Homo sapiens: one gene and its partners. The protein of the gene in region 1 interacts with the protein of each later gene in a pairwise test. Each region holds a gene or a part of one and is shown in the gene's direction. Other genes may lie near its edges.

Evidence for each region. The genes of interacting proteins can lie anywhere in the genome.
Region 2: the proteins of PRR5L (region 1) and CCDC91 interact in binary tests that used the Homo sapiens proteins (3 or more experiments, as listed by UniProt).
Region 3: the proteins of PRR5L (region 1) and PHAF1 interact in binary tests that used the Homo sapiens proteins (3 or more experiments, as listed by UniProt).

Annotation. Positions count from the first base shown.
Region 1 is NC_000011.10:36,460,276-36,465,720, forward strand, and holds the end of PRR5L (proline-rich protein 5-like), read left to right. Parts: intron 1-2,066; coding exon 2,067-2,461; 3' UTR 2,462-4,929; downstream 4,930-5,445. UniProt on the Homo sapiens protein: Associates with the mTORC2 complex that regulates cellular processes including survival and organization of the cytoskeleton.
Region 2 is NC_000012.12:28,185,492-28,193,482, forward strand, and holds the start of CCDC91 (coiled-coil domain-containing protein 91), read left to right. Parts: upstream 1-4,964; 5' UTR 4,965-5,150; exon of another isoform or gene 5,151-5,247; intron 5,248-7,991. UniProt on the Homo sapiens protein: Involved in the regulation of membrane traffic through the trans-Golgi network (TGN). Functions in close cooperation with the GGAs in the sorting of hydrolases to lysosomes.
Region 3 is NC_000016.10:67,126,940-67,133,967, forward strand, and holds part of PHAF1 (phagosome assembly factor 1), read left to right. Parts: intron 1-4,346; coding exon 4,347-4,390; intron 4,391-5,506; coding exon 5,507-5,586; coding exon of another isoform or gene 5,587-5,877; coding exon 5,878-5,972; intron 5,973-7,028. UniProt on the Homo sapiens protein: Plays a regulatory role in autophagic activity. In complex with BCAS3, associates with the autophagosome formation site during both non-selective and selective autophagy.

The DNA of each region.
Region 1 (5,445 bases):
ACTGCATGTCTGTCAGCCGGTGGAGGTTGCCCCTTCAGCATCTCAGACGCGATGTGGCCAGGACCCGGCGCTGGGTCTCACAAGCTGCCTCCTCTGCATCCTCCCCATCCTTCGCCCCTCCCCCAAGTCTGCCGTTCCTTTGTTCTGTCCCACAGCTCCTCCTCCCTGCCCCGCTCCCATGATCTCTTAGTTGTGGGGTTCTGTAGTATCTCTGTAGTATCTCTGTGGTGTCTCTAGCGGTCATCCTCACCTTACTGTCATCACCACAACTCCACTTCCTTTCCTGATCACCTCTCACTTTGACACTGATGTTAGCATTACCTTTTTTCACATGCGATCCCTATTTATTATGGAATATAATACCTGAGCCTTCTCCCTGGCTTTCCTCGCTGCTGGCCTCGCTGGCTCCAGCCCATTCTGCCACACTTCTGCCCAAGGAAGCTTCCTGAGCACAGTCCATCTTGCCCTATGACCTTCGATGTTAACTGCGTCCCCGCAGCTGTGCTGTGACCTGGTACCACAGGTGCTTCCATCTGCCTGCCGGGGCACCTCTCCTGGAGTCTGTTCCAGCCAGGCTGTGACCTGATGGTGCACCTGTCTCAGCAGCTTTCTCAGGCTGCTGCCATTGCTCAGAACTCTGTCACCCCTTTACCGCTTCTGGGAGTTCTGCCATCCTAAAGGTCCATCTCCAGTGTACATCCTCCAGGCAAGTTTCCTATCTCCAGATGGGCATGCTTTTTCTGGCCCTTGAAGCCCCTCCACTTGGCTCATCCTTCCCTTAAGGTATTTCACCTACCCTAGTTATCTGTGGGCCTTGGATGGGCAGCTAGAAGAGCAAGGGTCTGGAGAGAGACAGACCTTGTTTGAGTCCCAGCTTAAACTACCTTCTATCTATATGACCTTGGGTAAGCTATTCCCTCTCTGAGACTCAGTTTTCTCATCTGGAAAGTGGAAACTGATACAATACCATGACTTAGGTTCAGTTTTGGGGGGGATTCAAAAGATAAAATGTCTAGGTTTAGCACAGTTTTTGGAACATGATGAGAATTCAAAAGCAGCAGTTTAGGCCGGACGTGGTGGCTCACACCTTTAATCCCAGCACTTTGGGAGGCTGAGGCGGGTGGATCACCTGAGGTCAGGAGTTCAGGACCACCCTGGCCAACATGGTGAAACCCCGTCTCTAGTAAAAATACAAAAATTAGCTGGGCATGGTGGTGGGCGCCTGTAGTCCCAGCAACTCAGGAGGCTGAGGTGGGAGAATCACTTGAACCTGGGAAGCGGAGGTTGCAGTGAGCTGAGATCACACCACTGCACTCCAGCCTGGGTAACAAGAGCAAAACTGTCTCAAAAAAAAAACAAAAAGCAGCAGTTTTATAATTAGTATCCAGCCTTCCTGTGTCTGCCTCCTTGGGGTGATCCATGGAACCTAGCCTGTTCTTTGATGATGCTAAAGGCTGTTTGAGTCCAGGAGAATTGACTTGAACAGAACATAGGTCTGAGACCCTTCACCTGGCAGGAGATGAGGGCCATTGATAGTCGTGGTTCTGTATGATTTGCAAGATAGTCCTGCTACCTTGGGTTTGACAACTGAGGTAACTCCCCAGTTATCTCTTCCTCTGGATTTCAGCTTAGGAAGACTCTTTTATATCACCTGTTGGCATGGGAGAGGCCACTCCTGCAGGAAGCCAGGGTGCTTCTTTTGGAATGCTCAGGTCCTCAGAGGACATTGATTGAAAGGGAATTTTAGGGCAAACCCAATGAAGCTCAGGCAGCAGCTGAAAAACACACCAGATTCCCTTGACTCTTATCTGTCAAGGAAAGTCTGTTGGTGACCACCTAATATGTGGGGTAGGGTTGGTTACAGGCAGGATCTGGCATAAACAGGTAAAGTTGCAAGAGAAACATTTAGGTATCACCAGATTCCTCCCTTGCATTGTGGCAGGGCTGCACCTAAGAGCTGCTCCTAAAGGTTGAGCACCTTGTTCTTTTCCCCCAGTTGGATTAGGAGCTTTTAAGCACCAATACCCCCTCCCCAATAACAGTCTTTGCTGATTTTTCTCTTGCAGCCAGGCGGCACTCCAGGGTCCGGCCCAAGGTGACTGTCCTGAACTATGCCTCCCCGATAACCGCAGTCAGCCGGCCACTGAATGAGATGGTCTTGACCCCACTGACAGAGCAGGAGGGGGAAGCCTACCTGGAGAAGTGTGGCAGCGTGCGGCGGCACACGGTGGCCAATGCCCACTCGGACATCCAGCTGCTGGCCATGGCCACCATGATGCACTCGGGCCTGGGGGAGGAGGCCAGCAGTGAGAACAAGTGCCTGCTCCTGCCACCCAGCTTCCCCCCGCCCCACCGGCAGTGCTCCAGTGAGCCCAACATCACTGACAACCCTGACGGACTGGAGGAGGGGGCCAGGGGCAGCCAGGAGGGCTCGGAGCTGAACTGTGCTTCCCTCAGCTGAGTCGCCACCCCTGGGCCTTTCCATCTCCTGTTTTGCAACCAGGATGAGGACCCCTCCATCTCCGTGGATTACTGAGGGGGGCTCTTGCTTTATGCGATGCTGCCTTATTTCCTTTAGGGTACTGTCCTGGTCAAAATGACCTAAGGGGAAACCGTTGTTGTAAACCTCTTTATTTTGGTGACTGTGACCACTTCTTTGTAGCCACCAATTGTAGTGACCAGTTGCCTAATGGTCACTTTCTGACTCCAGCCTTGCCAGCCTGACTCAGATCCTCATCTCTGGGCCTTTCTCCCTCCGATGTTGGACTGCCTGATGCTCCCAATGACATATCCAATGCTCCTGGCATTTCTGGAGCAGGAGGTTGTCAGGACAACACATATAACCACCAAGGATGTGTTGGCCTTTGGAGTTCCCCTTTAGGTTCCTAGTGATGTGGAGGTTTATGGGTGAAAAATTAGTGGAGAGGGAACTCCTCTCCCCCATTTTGTGTAGAGTGAAAATAGCCTGAAGCCCCTACTCAGCAGGGCTCTGGGAATGTGCCTTCCTTATTTTAGTTTCAGAATTGCTGGGAAAGTTACCCCACTGGTGGGTGAGGATCTATCCTCAACCTACATCCAGATCCTATGTGCTGCTTGCACAGAGGCCTTTGGCTTTTGACCCAGGAGGGCCGCGAGGCTGGAGCTGCCCTGTCTTTCATTGAGCCTTAGCATTTCCCTCTCAGGCTTCCTCTCAAGCTCAAGGAACTCACCCCCAGATAAGAAGCTGGTGCCTCTTGTCTCTCTCATTTCAGAAACGGACTTTCTCATCATGCTTTCCTATGGTGGGTATGAGGGGCCAGCTGATACCAACCAACTGGCCTGTATCTATCTATCTGGATTTGACTTGAATTTTTAAAATGTGTATCGTTTAAAAAAAAAAATGTTTGCAAATTTTGCACATAGGATCTTGCACTGTTCATTTTCAGTGGGGTGAGTCTTCACACTAAAAACACAAGCAGAGCTCCTGGGAAAAGAGACTGGAAGTGGTTCAGGATAAAGAGATCCATGGTGGGCAGGGCTGTTAGGTCACAGAGCTCTAGAAGCAGCTGGACTTGAACCCACAATGGCTTGTGTAAATTCGTAAATTTCATGGTTTCTAGGAAAAGCTGCATTGGGGTGGGGAGACCCAGTTTGCCTCATAGGCAGAGGATTCTCCAGGAAGCATGGAAAATGGAATGTTTCCATGCTTTACAGTGCTGGGAGAGAGGGGAGATGTGGGCAGGACCTTTTGGAAGGATGTTTATTCTCTGTGGTTAAAGAAATGCTGAGAATTTCTAGCATGTGAAGCACTTGGGGGCAGCAGGCCTTGGCACGGTGCTGCATCCTTCTACTGCTCCCTCCAGGTCTGGGGGCTTTTATCCACCTTGAATCCCTATCCTCCTCTTTGTAGTTGTCGGTCTCACTGATAACAGCTCCAGAAAAAAAGACAAGGCTCCCCCTCTGACCCTTCCTGTTGGTATTTATGAAATCTCAAAGAGATGAGCCACCTTGGCTTCCAATATGGCAAGAGGGTGCTGGGAGAAGGTGAAGATCAGTCTAAGCTGCCACGGTGATGAGACCTTCTCATTATGTAACTCTTGATGGCATTTCCCTTCTGAGTGAAGATTTGAAATATGATTGATTAGAATTGTGCTCTTGATGGCTGGGAATTTAGAAATTTTATTTTAAGAGTTATTTCATTTTCATCCTAAGAGTGATGGGAGAGAAATGTCCAAAAGAGATCTGCTGATCTGCTGAGAGTTTCAAACAAACAAAAAAATAATCTCTATGTATGTGTTGGATAAAGTCTACAGACTGACTAACATGCATTAGCAAATGGAGCATCAGTAGGTAGCAACATGATAATTTATGTAACTGATAGCTTCTGTCCTTATTAGTACACTTAACATTTGAGACTAGTATTTATTGATCCAGGCAAAGTAATTAATTAATCATGCTTGGGCTTACTTTTTCAGTTTGTAAGGTTAAGCATATGTGCATGCGTGCGTGTGTATATAAATGCCTTTTCCATATCTTAAATGTCCCTGATGAGGAGAGCAGTCATCAATTAAATATATAAGCTCTTAAAATGAGAATGGAAGTGTCAGTATAGACCCAGTGTACTTAAGTGCTGATGACTGTTAGCCAGTTTACAACTTTTTACCATCGATGTACACATTTGATATTTGTGCAGTAAATAGACTGTACCTATAAAAAATTTTATTGATGTTTATGGTCATGTTAGCTATCAGAGAGCTATTGGAGTGAGAGCTGAGGTGTCCTTAACCACTTTTTCTCTCCTAGATTCATTTTCATTATTTATGCTAGGATTTTCTTATGGTTGACATTTGATGACAGGAAGCAATCATGACTCTTCAAGTGAGCTCACAGAAACCTTTCATGTTGTCTGTTTCCAAAATGGATTCAATAAACAACATTTTGTCCATGTTACCCTATTCTCATGCTGGGTGCCCCAGGGGTGTCTTGATCGAATTTGCAAGTATAGCAGTCAAATCAGATCTTTTTTTTTTTTCCTCAAATTAGATCTTGATGCATCTTTCCCTCAAACTCCCTGCCCCAACTTCTGCCTCCTCTTTTCTTGTTGCCTCTACTCCACAGTCAGACAGCAGCCTTAGCTCAGCCAGTCTTCCCTGGGTTTTGTTTGCAATCCTGGACTGGATTGGCAACTCATTTCCTGGAGAAACATATTGTGGAGCTAGAAAATACTGAAAAAAGTCTGAGAAGCCAATACTTTTTCTAAAACCAGCTTGGCCTTTCTTCCCAGAGTATTTGACCTAGAGGGAACAGTTACCATATGTACTCATGGATGATCTCATATATTCCCCTCTGATTCTGTTTGGCAGAGGAAATTTATGTTTTACTCTGCATAAATACTTCTAGGAGGCTTATAGCAGCAACAGTCTGAGACCGCTAAAGACTTAATAAGAGCCTTTGAAGAGGTGTGAC
Region 2 (7,991 bases), on another chromosome or scaffold:
GTGAAGTATAATAATAACAAATTTAAACTGACTTAACTAATATTCAGTACCAGTGAGGGTAAGTAGAAAAATCAAGCTCTGTATTAATTTGACCTAAAAGCTGCCATAACAGAAGAAACCAGTAGATTAAAAGGAAGGAGGCAGAAAAGTGTTTATTTAAAACCTTCACAGTTTACTGTTTATGTCCTTCTTCTTATATACAAAGTTATAAATCTTTGCTTATTTGATCAGGGTTCCAGCTTTTTTATTTTCTTGGTTACAAGATGACTGCCCTCAGTAACAAGAACCACATGCTTTCTCATTTATCAAGGGAGAGAAAGGAGCCACAGCCCACAATTTTGGGGCTAAAGTCCTGTAATTGGTGCCAATTTGCTCAACCCTGAACAACATCTTGTGGCCAGGGGAACAACGTAGGTTGGGATTGGGTTATCTTAACTGGACTAACTTTGGAGATAAAGGTGAGGTTAATTTCACCTCAATTTCTTAGGTGTACTATGCACAATGTGGGAAGAGTGGAATAAATGTTGGGATTGCAACTACAGTGTCCATGATAATCACTTTCAAAGCATATATATATGTAACAACTATATTGTTAGTTGCAGTTAAACTAGATCTAAGAATATGTAATTGTGTCTGACATAATTTTTTATGTTTGATTCTTAACAAGTTTTAAGTCCGGCTCCTCACCTGTTCCCTTTTGTATGATATCTGAATCTAGGCAACTTGATGAGAAAGCTTGCCTAGATCCAAATATGGTGCAAAATAGGTATTTCCTATTTTGGTGCTGGTGGAAAATTTGAGCCATACAGTCCCTGCCCTGTGTGGGCTTTTTCACCCAAGCGCCATGTCCTAGCCATGAAAAAAATCCCAATAGCTTTTTCTCCTACTCTCTCAAGTCATTTTAAAACCTGCTTAGGAGGTCTGCTGTACTCTTCCTAGAAAGGCTCATTATGTGAGTAATAAACCTTTTTATACCCTGTTGGTGCATATGTGGTATGCTAAGTCTTGAAATAGGAGCCAAAGTTTGGGTGAGGGTTCATCTCATTTCTGTGGGTGACTGCAACAGCACATAAACTTCAATGGCAGTTTAAATTCCTGCAACCTATCTGCTGTGGTCTGAATGTTTTTGTCCCCCCACAATTCATATGTTAAACTTAATCACCAATGAGATAGCGTTAGGAGGTGGGGCCTTTGGGAGGTGATTAAATCATGAGGACACAAGCCTCATGACTAGGATTACTGCCCTTATAAAAGAGGCTCCAGAGAGCCGCCCTGTCTCTTCCACCACATGAGGACACAGCTAGAAGGCACAATCTATGACCCAGAAAGCAGGGCCCCACTAGACATCCAATCTGCTGGTGTCTTAATCTTGAACTTCTTAGACTCCAGACCTGTGAGAAATAAATTTGCATTCATAAGCTACCCAGTATTTTTCTATAGCAGCCTGAACAAACTAAGATACCATCATTGTAGTGTTTCATTATTCTTATCACCAAGTGCCCAATCTTCCTCTTGATGACTACAGCCAGAAACCTGGAATATATCTTCAATTCTTTCTTCTTCTTCTTACTCCTCCTTTTTTTTTTTTTTTTGAAAGGGTCTTGCTCTGTCATCCAGCTGGAATGCAGTGGCACAATCACAGCTCACTGCAGCCTCCACCTCCCAGGCTCCAGTGATCCTCCTACCTCAGCCTCCCACATTGCTGGGGTTACACGTATAAGCCACCGTGACTGGCTTCTTTCCTCCTTTTTTGTTGGCCATGTGCCTTTAAAATCCTTTCTGCCAATTTCATGGGTACCATCTCGGCTCAGGCAGTCATTAATTCCTCATTTTAGTTATTTTATGTCTTCTATCTGGTTTGTTTGTTTTTCTAGTCTTGGCCCCGTCTCTCCTACCCAATAATCCTTCCTCTATACTGCTGCTGAAGTAATTCTTCTCCAACCTTGCTTAACTAATTCAGCAATTTCCCATTACCTTCAGGATACAGTTCAAACTCCTTAACACAGTTTACAAAACTCTTCATCATCTTACATCTACATTTCCCATTTCTCCTGCTGCATACCTGCATACCACAATGTTTGCTTCTATGGTATGCTTACCTGCAAAATATACTTACCTCCACAGTTCATAGACAAGGAAATATATACAAAGGTATATGTTCCTTTTTCTGGAGCATACTCATGTCTTTCCTTAGCTTGGTCAATTCCAATAGATTCTTCAGGACTAATCCTGAGCTTTGATACATTCTATGAGAAGTACTTCCTGTTTAACCTAGGCTGAGTGAGGTGTTCTTTCTCCACCTTTTAGCAATAACCTTTATTTCAGTGTTTATTATCACTGTAATATCTGATTTGATTGTATATTTTTCTAGATGTGATTCTCTTAAGGGCAGGCACCATGTTTTTCATCTCAGAAGGTCACAAACTATTAGGAAAATGGGCTTGCAGATACATGTACAACAAAGAATAATAATTGAAGATGGCTCATGGAAAAAGTATTCTGAAAAGTAAGAGAGGCACATGTTCTAGAGAGACAAGAAAAGGCACAATAGAGAAATTAGAGCCCTCATACATTGCTGGTGAGAAAGTAAAATGGTACAGCCACTTTGGAAAACAGTGTGGTAGTTCCACAAGGGGTTAAACATAGAGTTACCATATGACCCCGCAATTCCACTCTTAGGTATATATCCAAGAGAAATGAGAACATATGTTGACACGAAAACTTGTACATGAATGTCAACAGGAGCATTATTCATAATATTCAAAAAGCTGAAACAACCCAACCGATGAAGGGACTTTGAAAACATGTTAAGTGAAAGAAGCCAGTCACAAAAGACCACACATTGCATGATTCCATTTATATGAAATGTTCAAGATAGACAAATGCATACAGACGGAAAGTGGATTACTGGTTGCCTAGGGCTGGGGAGAGGAGGGAGAAGTTGGGGCCAAAGGGTATGGGGTTTCTTTTTGGGGCTGTGAAAATACTCTAAAATCGAATGTGGTAAAGCATGCATAACTCTGTGAATATACTAAAATCACTGAATTGTTTATAAAGAAAAAGATTACTGTGGGGAAGGAAGAAAGATTTCATGGAGTTGGTAGGATTTGAATTCACTGATAAATAAGTGATATAAAAAGCAAAGTGATGTGCTATAGTGAATAAACAAGCCCTTCTGTTGGGCAGATCTGGCTTTAAATCCACTTGGTCAATTTACACTTCCTAAATCTGTAACCTCATCTAAAGTGTAAATATATTAATATACCTACTTTGTAAAATTATTGTGGTAAGTTATATATGGGATTTAAAATATTTAATCTAATGCCAGGCACATAGCAAATATTAATAATAAATATTAGTTACTTATTATAAATCTGTTTAGTATGGAATACAGTTTAGTATTGAATATCGGGACAGAGTGAACATGTAAGTACATCAATGGGAAGGAACTCCCAGAAACTAATCTGGTTTCCAGCAGAAAGAGATATGAGAGACAAAATAATATAAAGGTAACCTTACTAAGTTTAAGAAATATTTATGAATACCTTTTTTCTAACTACTAGACACTTTGCTAGACTGCTGGATACACAAAGACAAATGAGAAGTGAGTAGATTGCTGGATATACAAGTGAGAAGTGGTCCTTGACTTGGTAGTCTAGTAGACAGATAAAAAAATATGTGTAAGAAAGCATTACATTTCTTACAATAGAAATGTTTTTTGTATGCATAAAGAAGGGGGTGGGCTGGAAAAAGAATGTAGTCAAGGTGACTTGCTCAATACTGAAACTGCTCATTAACTACTTAGGCCAGCACTTATGGCAGACTTGTCAGGATGCCTTGCTAATATTTTCCACTTCCAGTACAGAACAGAGATTACAGGTTTAAGCCAATTTTGTTCAACAGATGAGAAACCCAGTGTCCAAGGATGAAAGAATACTTGTTATACAAGGAATGTGAATATTCCAGAGATTTATGCTCAAAGTCCCCAGGTTAGTGTCTTTCTTTCTCACTAGACTGTAAGCTTCTTGAAGACAAATATCTTGAGTGTTACCTTGCTCACTCTTGAATTGTCAAAACTTGGCCCAGGACTAGGTATGTGGTATACAATCAATAAAAATTTGTTGAATGAATGTTCTTCAAAATCCTTCCATGGCAAAAACAGAAGAAACATTCACGAGTGGACTGCTAGTTGACTGTTTCTCTCATCGCTATTGACAGTCTGAAATGGACAAAGACATCTATATAATCATTCCTTCCTTTCAAATAAATAATCTGTGAATTACGCTATTCTTTTCCTATTGCTTCAGGACAAGCTATTTGACAGAAAGCTTTTAAGAAAGGCTTTGCAAGAAAACTCTGCAACAGAGATGGCACGTATGAATTGCTGTGATCTGGAGTTGAAGACAAGAACAAAAGTAACTCTAGAGCAGAATTCTTTGACCAAAGTCATCTTACTGGTTGGCGGAGGCTCTCAGTCTACTTGCATCCGGTGCTTGAGAGTTCAGACAGGCAAAGATGAGAGGTAGCATCTAGTCAACATCCATTTCTTGAGCACTTACTACATGTCAGCCACTTTGCTTAGTCCCCGGTTTTACTGTGCTCTGCTAGGAAGTGGTGAAGAGATTCGGCGGGATCTTCTTAGGACCAATCCTACAAAGTTCCAGATGGAACTCATTTTGATTTGGGGGACGGTTTACTTGCAGGGATTAGGTGGAGAAACAGGGCCTGCTACTCAAGAGGAATGAGAAACTGTAACTAACAGGAGGTAGACTGGGAAGGAGCATGGCAAAGTCACCCCTTTTCACAGGGCAACGCTCCAAAGACCACGCTCAAGCTGGGGTGGCAGGGCTCTGAACATGGGGCCCCGACCCGGGCCTCGGCCTGGGGCCACGTGACGCGCGTGTTTACGTTGAGTGACGGGCGCTGTGTTGGGCGGGCCTTGGCGGAAATCAACTTCCGGGGGCAGAGGTGTTCGAAGCCGGGTGGTGCGTGGGCTACCCCAACCTGTGTGGCTGGGCCGCGGTCTCCCCTCAAGGGCCTGGGGCCGTGCCTCGGGTGTACGCGTAGGGGTCTGTGTGCTGGGGGTGGCTCACCGGGCAGCGTGGGTGAGCGGCGCAGCGGCGGCAGCGGAGAGCGAGAGAGGGGAGCAGGTAAGTGAACGCTCGCCTTCCGGGGCCTGGGTCTTGGGGTCGGGGCCGCGCGAGGCGAGCGGAGAGCGCCCCACCGGGGGAGGAGCGCGGACGAGCTTCCGCCGCCTGCAGCCCGCCTGCTGCGGCCTCGCCCTTGGCTGTCGCAGCGACCAGGAGTCAGGGGGCGTGACCAACCTCCTGCGGGAACGGAGCCAGCTCCCGGGGGTGGGAGTGCCCACTCGTTCCTGCGCTCGCCGGTGGGTACCGGTATCTGCACGTCCCAGAATCGAGTGTTTTCGAAAGTCTACGCCCACGAACACGTGATTATTGTGTCACCGAAGCGCCTACCGAACGGAGACCTTGATTCTTGCTTAGATTACACAGAACGCGCCTGGTTTATGTATCCCCTTTTACTTTGCCAAGTACATTGGGGTAAAAGCTCTACAGCGTCTGCCAGCCACATTTCCTTAGAGTTTCTTGGGCCACATGTTGCAATAAAAGTGGCATTTCAGGGTCAAGGCAGGAGCCAGTAACTTTGCCAAGTGGTGAGGTATCCTTCGTCCCCGTTAGCACGCCTCCCTTTCCCAACAATAAAGATATTTTCTCCATCTGCGCGTGTCGCCTACTGCGGAGGAAAGCTTTGGACATGAAACCTATTTTTGGCTTCACTTTAAGGAGTGGAACTCTATTAAAAGCTGCGCTGGTGTTTTTTTGGTAGGATGATGTTGCTGCTGCTACTCTCACTTGCTTCCTTGATGAGAGTTGGGGCAGAGCTCGATTTCCTGGAGGGTAAAGTCTTGGCCACAATTTTAGGTGACTCAGCGGCCCCTTATGAATTCTGACTCTTTCCTTCCCTCCCCTCTCAGCTGTGCGGATACTGATGCCACCTTTCTCTCCAAATATTAATCCGGGTGGGAGTTGGATGATGGTTTTTGGAAGCAGTTTGCATGTTGCGTGGTGGAGTTATTGGAGTGGGCTGACATTTTACTTCACAATTTAAGGCAACCCTTCCCCCCCCCACAATATTTAGTTGGGTGGGGTGACAGGGACTGACAACAAATTCGCTGTTGTGTTCCCTGCTGTCGGAGAGTTCTACACTTAATGATCACCTGATTGCCCTCTGCTACAATTTCTATTGCGTTGAGGGGATTGGTTATACTGTCTGTACCTATTAGGTAAATGTAGTAAGGGTCATGCCAGGCAGAGTGCACCTGCATGGTGTTGGCTAACCAGTAAACTGTGTGGTAGAGAATTGCCCTGGTTACGAAGTTTGGTATCCTCCAGGCTGCCTAGGAGGGTGTTCTGTGGGCTGGGAAATCTTATGAACTGGTTTCCTAGCAACAGTATAAGCCCAATGGAATAAACATAAAGAAAACAAAGTGATGAAAGTTACAACTTACCTCTTAACTTTTATTAAATGGAAAAATGTAGCTTCTTATTGGAGTGATCCACTCAAAACTTCTGAGACATTTTTGTTTATTTTGATCATCTTAGTACTTAATAACACACAAAAGAAACTGCAGAAAATCATTCCAGAGGGACATCACTTTGGTTTTGGGTGGCATTAAAATAGAGAAAAAAGACGTTTAAAAATGAGCTTGTCTGGAGCTTAAATGGACAAACAGGAATTTGGTGTAATAGGCATTTTATGTTGTACTCTTATCTATATGTGTCAGATGTATGCATTACATATGATTGTTATGAATGAAGATAGTAGAAGACGGAGTGGGAGTGGAGTAGAGTGGATGGGTGGATAAGACTGGTTCCATTAAGTAAAATGGAAGGGGAATGTTTTAGATAAGTTGTTCCCAAACTGTAGGTCATAATTACAGCACTCCTTTGTCAACCTGTTCCTTGTGATTTTTAATCTTCCTTGAAAGTTTATCAAATTTTCTTATTTTCTGTCCAAACAATGAGAACTTAATTGAAAAAGGCATCTCTCTTTGGATTAACTCTTGGTGTTTATGTATATCTGTTTCTTATTTACTAACGATAAATTAATATTTTAGATTTCCAGTATTTTAAGGATTTTTGGTCTCCTTACTGTTCCTCCCTGCCCTATTCCCATACCCAGTAAGTTTGGTTTAGCTCATTTAAACTGATGCATATTTTTAAAAAGGGCATATGTTGCTTTTTTTAAAAAAAATCAAGTTTTATTGAGGTATGATTTATAAGTAAAAAAGTAATTTTTATTATATTGCTGTATAAAGTCTGACAAATGCATATAATGGAACCACTGCCACAATCCAGACAAATAATATTCCCATCATTCTAAAGTTTCCTCCCCTCACTCATAGGTCCTAGCAACCACTGATCTGTTCTCTGTCCCTGTCTATAGCTTTGTCTTTTCTGGTATGTTATGTAAATGGAATCATACAGTATGTAGCCTTATGTTTCAGGTTTCTTTCACTTAATGCTTTGATTCATCCATGTTGATGCATGTTTGTTGATGCTTGGTTGTTTTTTACAGCTGAGTAGTATTTCATTGTGTGAATATATCATAGTATGTTTATTCGCCATTTGATGAACAATTTTTGGCATTTAGGAATGAAGGTACTGTAAACATTCATGTGCTGTTCTTTGTACATTAAGGTGCAAGTCTTTGTGTAGACATATGTTTTCATTTCTTTTGGTTACACATCTAGGAATGGAATTCTTGGGCCGTGTGCAAGTGCATGTTTAACCTTAAAAGAAATTACCAGCTGGGCGCAGTGGCTCAGACTTGTAATCCCAGCACTTTGGGAGGCCGAGGTGGGCAGCTCACGAGGTCAGGAGATTGAGACCATCCTGGTCAACATGGTGAAACTCCGTCTCTACTAAAAATACAAAAATTAGCTGGGCGTGGTTGCGGGTGCCTGTAAT
Region 3 (7,028 bases), on another chromosome or scaffold:
GTGAAGTGGTGCAATCTTGGCTCACTGCAACCTCTGCCTCCCGGGTTTAAGCAATTCTCCTGCCTCAGCCTCCTCAGTAGCTGGGACTACAGGTGCGTGCCACTACGCCCAGCTAATTTTTTGTTTCACCATGTTGGCCAGGCTGGTCTTGATCTCTTGACCTCGTGATCCGCCCGCCTCGGCCTCCCAAAGTGCTGGGATTACAGGCATGAGCCACCGCACCCAGTTCAGTCTGTTTTTGATATACCCTGTTTACAAATGCCTGGGCCTCACAGGTTAGTCATGTGACACCAGAGTCATGCCTCAAAGTCATGAGGTTGGATGGGCCCTGGGCAGTGGCATGCCAGAGTTGTTGTCCTTCTTGGGTTATGGAGTAGCCTTTCCAAAAGACTTGGGTACTTACCAGTTCTCATCATCCTTGTCACAAGTGAACTGCTAAGGAGAGAAAACAAAACATGGAAAGAGAATCAGTATGTGGAATTAGAATTCCTCATTCTATCCTGTCTCCATGGCCAGAAGTTCCACACTGGGAAAGGGCAGAGGATGATCTTCAATATCGCATAATCACAAATTGGAGCCGGGTGCAGTGGCTCACGCCTGTAATCCCAGCACTTTGGGAGGCTGAGGCGGGTGGATCACGAGGTCAGGAGATCGAGACCATCCTGGCTAACACGGTGAAACCCCGTCTCTACTAAAAATACAAAAAATTAGCTGGGCATGGTGGCAGGCGCCTGTAGTCCCAGCTACTTGGGAGGCTGAGGCAGGAGAATGGCGTGAACCCGGGAGGCAGAGTTTGCAGTGAGCTGAGATCGCACCACTGCACTCCAGCCTGGGCAACAGAGCAAGACTCCGTCTCAAAAAAAAAAAATTGGGGGGAAATTAATCTGGTAACATGGAAATTTCTTTACAAGTAGTCATTTCCCTTTGACTTGGTAAAAGTCCACTTTAGAAAATGTAACCCAGAAACACTGGGGGAAGGTAACGGTATTTCATGGTAATGAGAAGCTGGAAGTAACCTAAATGGGCAACAAAAGGGATGTCCAGCAGCCCATAAAATCACAGCATGGTGAAGACAATGTCATATGTTTAGTGAGTGCTTAGTATATGCTAGGCACATGGCTGGGTGTTTCACATGCGTTTTCTAGTTTAATCCTAACCCGCCTGTGAAGTAGGTACTGTTTACTAGCAAGAAAACCGAGGGACAGAGAGGATAAGTAGTCTACCTGATGCCAGGCTTTTAACTGGATATTGGCAATATGTGGTGGCTGACCACTTAGGCTCTGTTGATGGATCTGGGAAATAAATAAGAAAAGCTGAAGAAATGTACAGAAATATGAGGAATGGGAGGTACCTTTGGATAGGAAAGGAGATAAAATCAAACCGGCAATCCTCTTCTGCCTTCTGTGGGATCCCCATGAAGGAGAGACTGGGGTCCTGCCTGAGTCTTCTGGAAACTGAGCAAGTAATCACCCAGGTGTTTTTGATTGGCACCAGCCTGACCTGACCTATCTTCCTGCCCTTCCATCCAACACCTTCAGAATCCACCTCTTCTGATGCTGCCTCCTATAGTTGCTTCCCACCCCCTGCCTCAAGCCTAAGAGAGACAGCCCTGTGGAATGAGGCTTTATAAGTCACAACCTTTACAGCCACCTGTCTTTTCCATTTTTATCTTGGCTGCTGCCACATCTCTTCCCCTCTGGGGAAATCAGGAGCTTCTGTAGCCCAGAGATGGAAAATCATGGGCTTTAGCCTTCCCAGCTGCTTGTCCCTGTAGTGCAGCAAGCTCCAAGAGATGAAATCTGCTTATTGATGCTCCTAGTGACATGAAGGACTCCAGGATGGCCAGCACTCTGGGTCCATTGCCACAAGTGCTGCTTCGTGCCCTGTGATTAGCTCTGGTCCACTGTTTTCCCATTGATCAGGCAGGGTCGAAGCACCTATATGTGTTGGACCCGTATAGCTGTTGGCAGGTGGGGTGCCAGTGATACAGGAGGAACATCGTGCAGGCTCACTTCCACAGGGCGGGTGGTGGGAAGCTTTGGGGGATGACTGGCCAGCTGTAGGGATAGAAGTGAGGGAGGTGAGTGCCTGTGCCTGCTATGAACAGGAGGGCTTCTGGCTGAAGGTAGAGGCTCTCTGCTAGACAAGGCTCTGGCCTCAGTGAAATGGCATGCCAGTTTGGCATGATATATTCCCATGCCCAGATATTCTGAAGGGGACACTGGCTATCTTCTGAATCATAGCTGTTCCCCTGCCCTTCCTTCCACAGCCCCTCCTGGCACTTCTTTTCATGCTTTCAAGCTTCATACCAGGCAGAATTGCCTAACATGAATTGAACACCTTCCCTATGCAAATTAATGAGTCCCTCAAGGGGCTTAACTTATTGGACCACTTAACAGAATACACAAGTATGGAGGAAAGGATTCATTCCAGTGCTGTGACGGCCTAGCAGAGGGAGCAGTTCTTTCTAGCAGATAGGATCAAAAGAGCTACATTATAGTCAAGAGGTATCCAATTTGGTTCAGTGTTGTGGTCTCTAAATAAAGTTAGGGATAGGGTCTCTGGCCAAAAGCGAACCTACTATCTATTATGTCTCAGTTTCTTTGGCAGTGCCAGATGTTCCTGCATACAATGCCCCACAGCCTCTTCCACAATCAGGCTCAGATTGGCAGGACAAACAGATATTGAGCCAGCTCTGCTTGTGTCTCCACAATGAGAGCAAAACCTCCCAGCTGGAGGATGGTAGATGGTGCTCCGAGCCCCTACCTGTGCTGCTGGCTGCCAAGCCCTTGACACCATTGCATGGAGGACTTCATAGTGCTTATTACTTGGCACCACTGATGGCGGAGTGTTAGGTGATGCCTATTCCTTTATCTCTGCCCTGCCCTGAGTTCTTAGAATTTCATCTGAGGCTGAACCCATTAAAGAGCAAGCTTCACAAAGGTCCTGAGGCTTTCTTGTTTCAACCAGATCCTCTTCATCAGGGACATAACTGAATACTGTCACACTTGTGTGACAAATATTATGGCTTGCTTTCTAATGGGATAGACCTCCCCCTCCATCTTTTTGTTTTGTAAACAAAATCAACTTCAAAATAAGCTATTTTCTTTCTTTCTTTCTTTCTTTTGGAGGAGTCTCGCTCTGTCGCCCAGGCTGGGGTGCAGTGGCGCAATCTCCGCTCACTGCAAGCTCTGCCTCCCGGGTTCACGCCATTCTCCTGCCTCAGCCTCCTCAGTAGCTGGGACTACAGGCGCCCACCACCACGCCTGGCTAATTTTTTGTATTTTTCAGTAGAGACACGGTTTCACCGTGTTAGCCAGGATGGTCTCAATCTCCTGACCTTGTGATCCGCCCGCCTCGGCCTCCCAAAGTGCTGGGATTATAGGCGTGAGCCACCGTGCCCGGCCTTTTTTTTTTTTTTTTTTTTGAGACGGAGTCTCGCTCTGTCACCCAGGCTGGAGTGCAGTGGCGCAATCTCAGCTCACTGCTACCTCCAACTCCTGGGTTCAAGCGGTTCTCCTGCCTCAGCCTCCACAGTAGCTGGGATTACAGGTGTGTGCCACCACGCCCAGCTAATTTTTGTATTTTTGGTAGAGACAGGATTTCACCATGTTGGTCAGGCTGGTCTGGAACTCCTGACCTCAGGAGATCCACCTACCTGGGCCTCCCAAAGTGCTGGGATTATAGGCGTGAGCCACCGTGCCCGGCTAAAATAAGCTATTTTCTAAAGCAACCCGACCTGGGTTTTAAAATGCAGCAAAATATGAGATGGGAGGAAGGGGGCTTAGTGCCCAAAGCAGAGCCTTAACAAGCTTCATGTCTGTGGAAGAGATCATTGTCCTATAGGGTGGTGTGTGCTCCAGCCTGACCCAGAAGTGGACTGCATGTAAGAGCCTTGACCCAGAGCATCCATGGACATCTGTTGAGCAGTCCACTAGGAGAGGGAAGCTAAGAGGTTATGCTGAAGGGGACACTGGCTATGGTTATGCTGAAGGGGAAACTGGTTTTTTCCCTGGTTTCAAAATAACAAAGGACTGTCATGGTGGCTCATGCTTGTAATCCCAGCACTTTGGGAGGCTAAGACAGGAGGATCATTTGAGCCCAGGAGTTTGAGACCAGCCTGGGCAACATAGTTTTTTAGTTTTGCTAAGATTCTATCTCTACAAAAAGTTTTTAAAAAAATTTTAAATGAGAACAAAAGATAACATGCAGTGCTTCCATAAAATTTCTATTGGTAATAGTTTTTTTTTTTTTTTTTTTTACTATTTATTCTATAAATGTATTTTTAATCATTTTTAGTCTGTCATCACTTTCAGAGCATTGACAACTCTTAAACTTTTTTTTAGGTGATCGAAGTATGTGATTTGACTAAAGTAAAGTTAAAATATTGGTAAGTTTTCTCCCCTGCTGGTATATGTCACACTTGGTATAGACAGGCCATATCTACTATCTTCATAAGTTAGTAAAGATTCACATCTGTCACAGATGTGAATTATAGCCTGGTGCCATGAATTCCTGAGGCAACCTTCAAGCCTGCTCAGTTTCCTGGAGAAGAGAAGTAAACCTCATTAAGAATATGTGATGTGTTTAACACTTCATGTATATGTCATCTAACTTAATCCACTTGACAAAGCCAGACCTCAGCTCAGAGGTGATGTGACAGTCTCCTGGGTCATAGCTGCCCTCCCGCTGACAGCCTCTCTTGGCACCTCTTTTCATGTTTTCATGAGTAACAGAGGTGGGACAAACCAGATAGGTCTGACTCCAAAGCCTATGCTGAAGAGAATGCCAAAGAGACCACCATTTTAGAGCTATAATGTATTTTTTAGAATTACAGCGGGGATGACATGCACAGTCCAAAGTTGTTGCGCCCCCATTATGGCAAGGCAGCATGCCTGCATCTAAAAATCTAGAATACTCCTTCCTTTCTTTCTTTCTTTCTTTTTTTTTTTTGAGACGGAGTCTCTCTCTGTCACCCAGGCTGGTGTGCAGTGGCGCCATCTCAGCTCACTGTAACCTCCACCTCCTGGGTTCAAGCGATAGAATACTCCTTTCAGTAAGTCTCCTTAACTGGCTTCCCTTTCCCTTTTTGAGGGTGTGAAGAGGACCTGATTCCTGGGGCAGGCTCAGGCAGTTTTGCTGATAGAGGAGTAGACAAGCAAATGTGTGGTACCACTGGCCCCTGCAGGTTCTAGTTGTCTTTTAGTTTTACTGGGGCCTTCATACCTCAGGGTCTGGTGGCTTCTCTTCTCTACCCTTTTCTTAAGAGTCACTGGTGTCATAAAGCCCCAGAGGATCAACTCTGTATATCAGCCTCATGAGAACTGACCTTCTCCTGACCTCATTAATGCTCTTATTTAAAAGTTCTCTAATTAAGCTTTGTATTTTGATATAATTAGAGACTCACCTGCCTGTGTCTTAAAAATAACTCTCCCAGCTACTATCTCACATGATCTGTGGGCCCATCTTGTGAAGCCTAGTATTAAAAAATATTTTTGTTTTTCAGTGGCGTGCATTTTAATTCTCAGGCCATAGCTCCTACCATTGAACAGATTGACCAGTCTTTTGGCGCAACCCATCCTGGAGGTAAGCCAAGTCCATCTGATTCCTCTGGTCATCAGTGGCAGTTCATAGCAATAAACCTGCCCGGTAGTGCCATCCCACCCCACTTCCTGGAGTCAGGCTCCCATAGGATTGTGGGGTTGGTACTTGGGTGTGAAGGAAACATCCTCCCCCTTGTTTTCAACCTAGTAGGCCAGTTTAGAAACAAGCCACAGGGAAGGTGTTGTCAGTCATTACTCCCTGCCAGGCTGGTTTATGTTAGCCATTTCAGATGCCAGTCAACCATGTTATTTTCTTCTCCCCCACCCCCAACAGTGTACAACTCCGCTGAGCAGCTCTTCCATCTCAACTTCAGAGGACTGTCTTTCTCTTTTCAGTTAGACTCATGGACTGAGGCTCCAAAGTATGAGGTTAGCCCTTCCTGTCCCCTGGTGTTTGTTGTATGTGTCTGTGGTATGGCTCAGCAGATGGTGTCATGGGATGGGAATAGAGGAGTGGGTATTAGATAGGCAGACTTTCTTTGGTTTCCATGTATTTGAGCTCTACAGGGTAAAGTGGTAGAGTGGGTGGGTTGACAGAGGAAGAACAATGCTCAGGCTGGCATTCCGAGGAAGAGGATACTTCCCACAATGGAGTGAGGTCAGGCTCACTTTTCAGAGATAAGTTCATTCATTCCTTATTTTCAAGCTCCTAATCAACAGTTTTCCTGGTGGCCTAGAATTTGGAGATTTCATCCTCTGGATTTTCAGTTACCTTTGTTTTTGCAAACATTTCATTCATCCTAGGGGCTGTGAAAATGATAAGCTTTCATAAGACTTATTTTAATTAAGGAAGCATTTCTGCATTTTCCCCTATGAAGAAAAGGAAAACTGACCGGGCATGGTGGCTCATGCTTCTAATCCCAGCACTTTGGGAGGCCAAGGCGGGCGGATGACTTGAGGTCAGGAGTTCGAGACCACGTTGGCCAACATGGTGAAACCCTGTCTCTACCAAAAATATTAAAAAAAAAAAAAAAAAAAAACAGGCCGGGCGCAGTGGCTCACGCTTGTAATCCCAGCACTTTGGGAGGCCGAGGCGGGCCTCCTGGCTAACATGGTGAAACCCCGTCTCTATTAAAAATACAAAAAATTTAGCTGGGTGTGGTGGCGGGTGCCTGTAGTCCCAGCTACTTGGGAGGCTGAGGCAGGAGAATGGCGTGAACCCGGGAGGCGGAGCTTGCAGTGAGCCGAGATCATGCCACTGCACTCTAGCCTGGGCGACAGAGCGAGACTCCGTCTCAAAAAAAAAAAAAAAATTAGCTGGTTGTGGTGGTGCACACTTGTAGTCCCAGCTACTCAGGAAGCTGAGGCAGGAGAATCACTTGAACCTGGGAGGTGGAGGTTGCAGTGAGCTGAGATCATGCCACTGTACTCCAACCTGGGTGACAGAGTGAGACTCCGTCTCAAAAAAAAAGAAAAAAAAAGAAA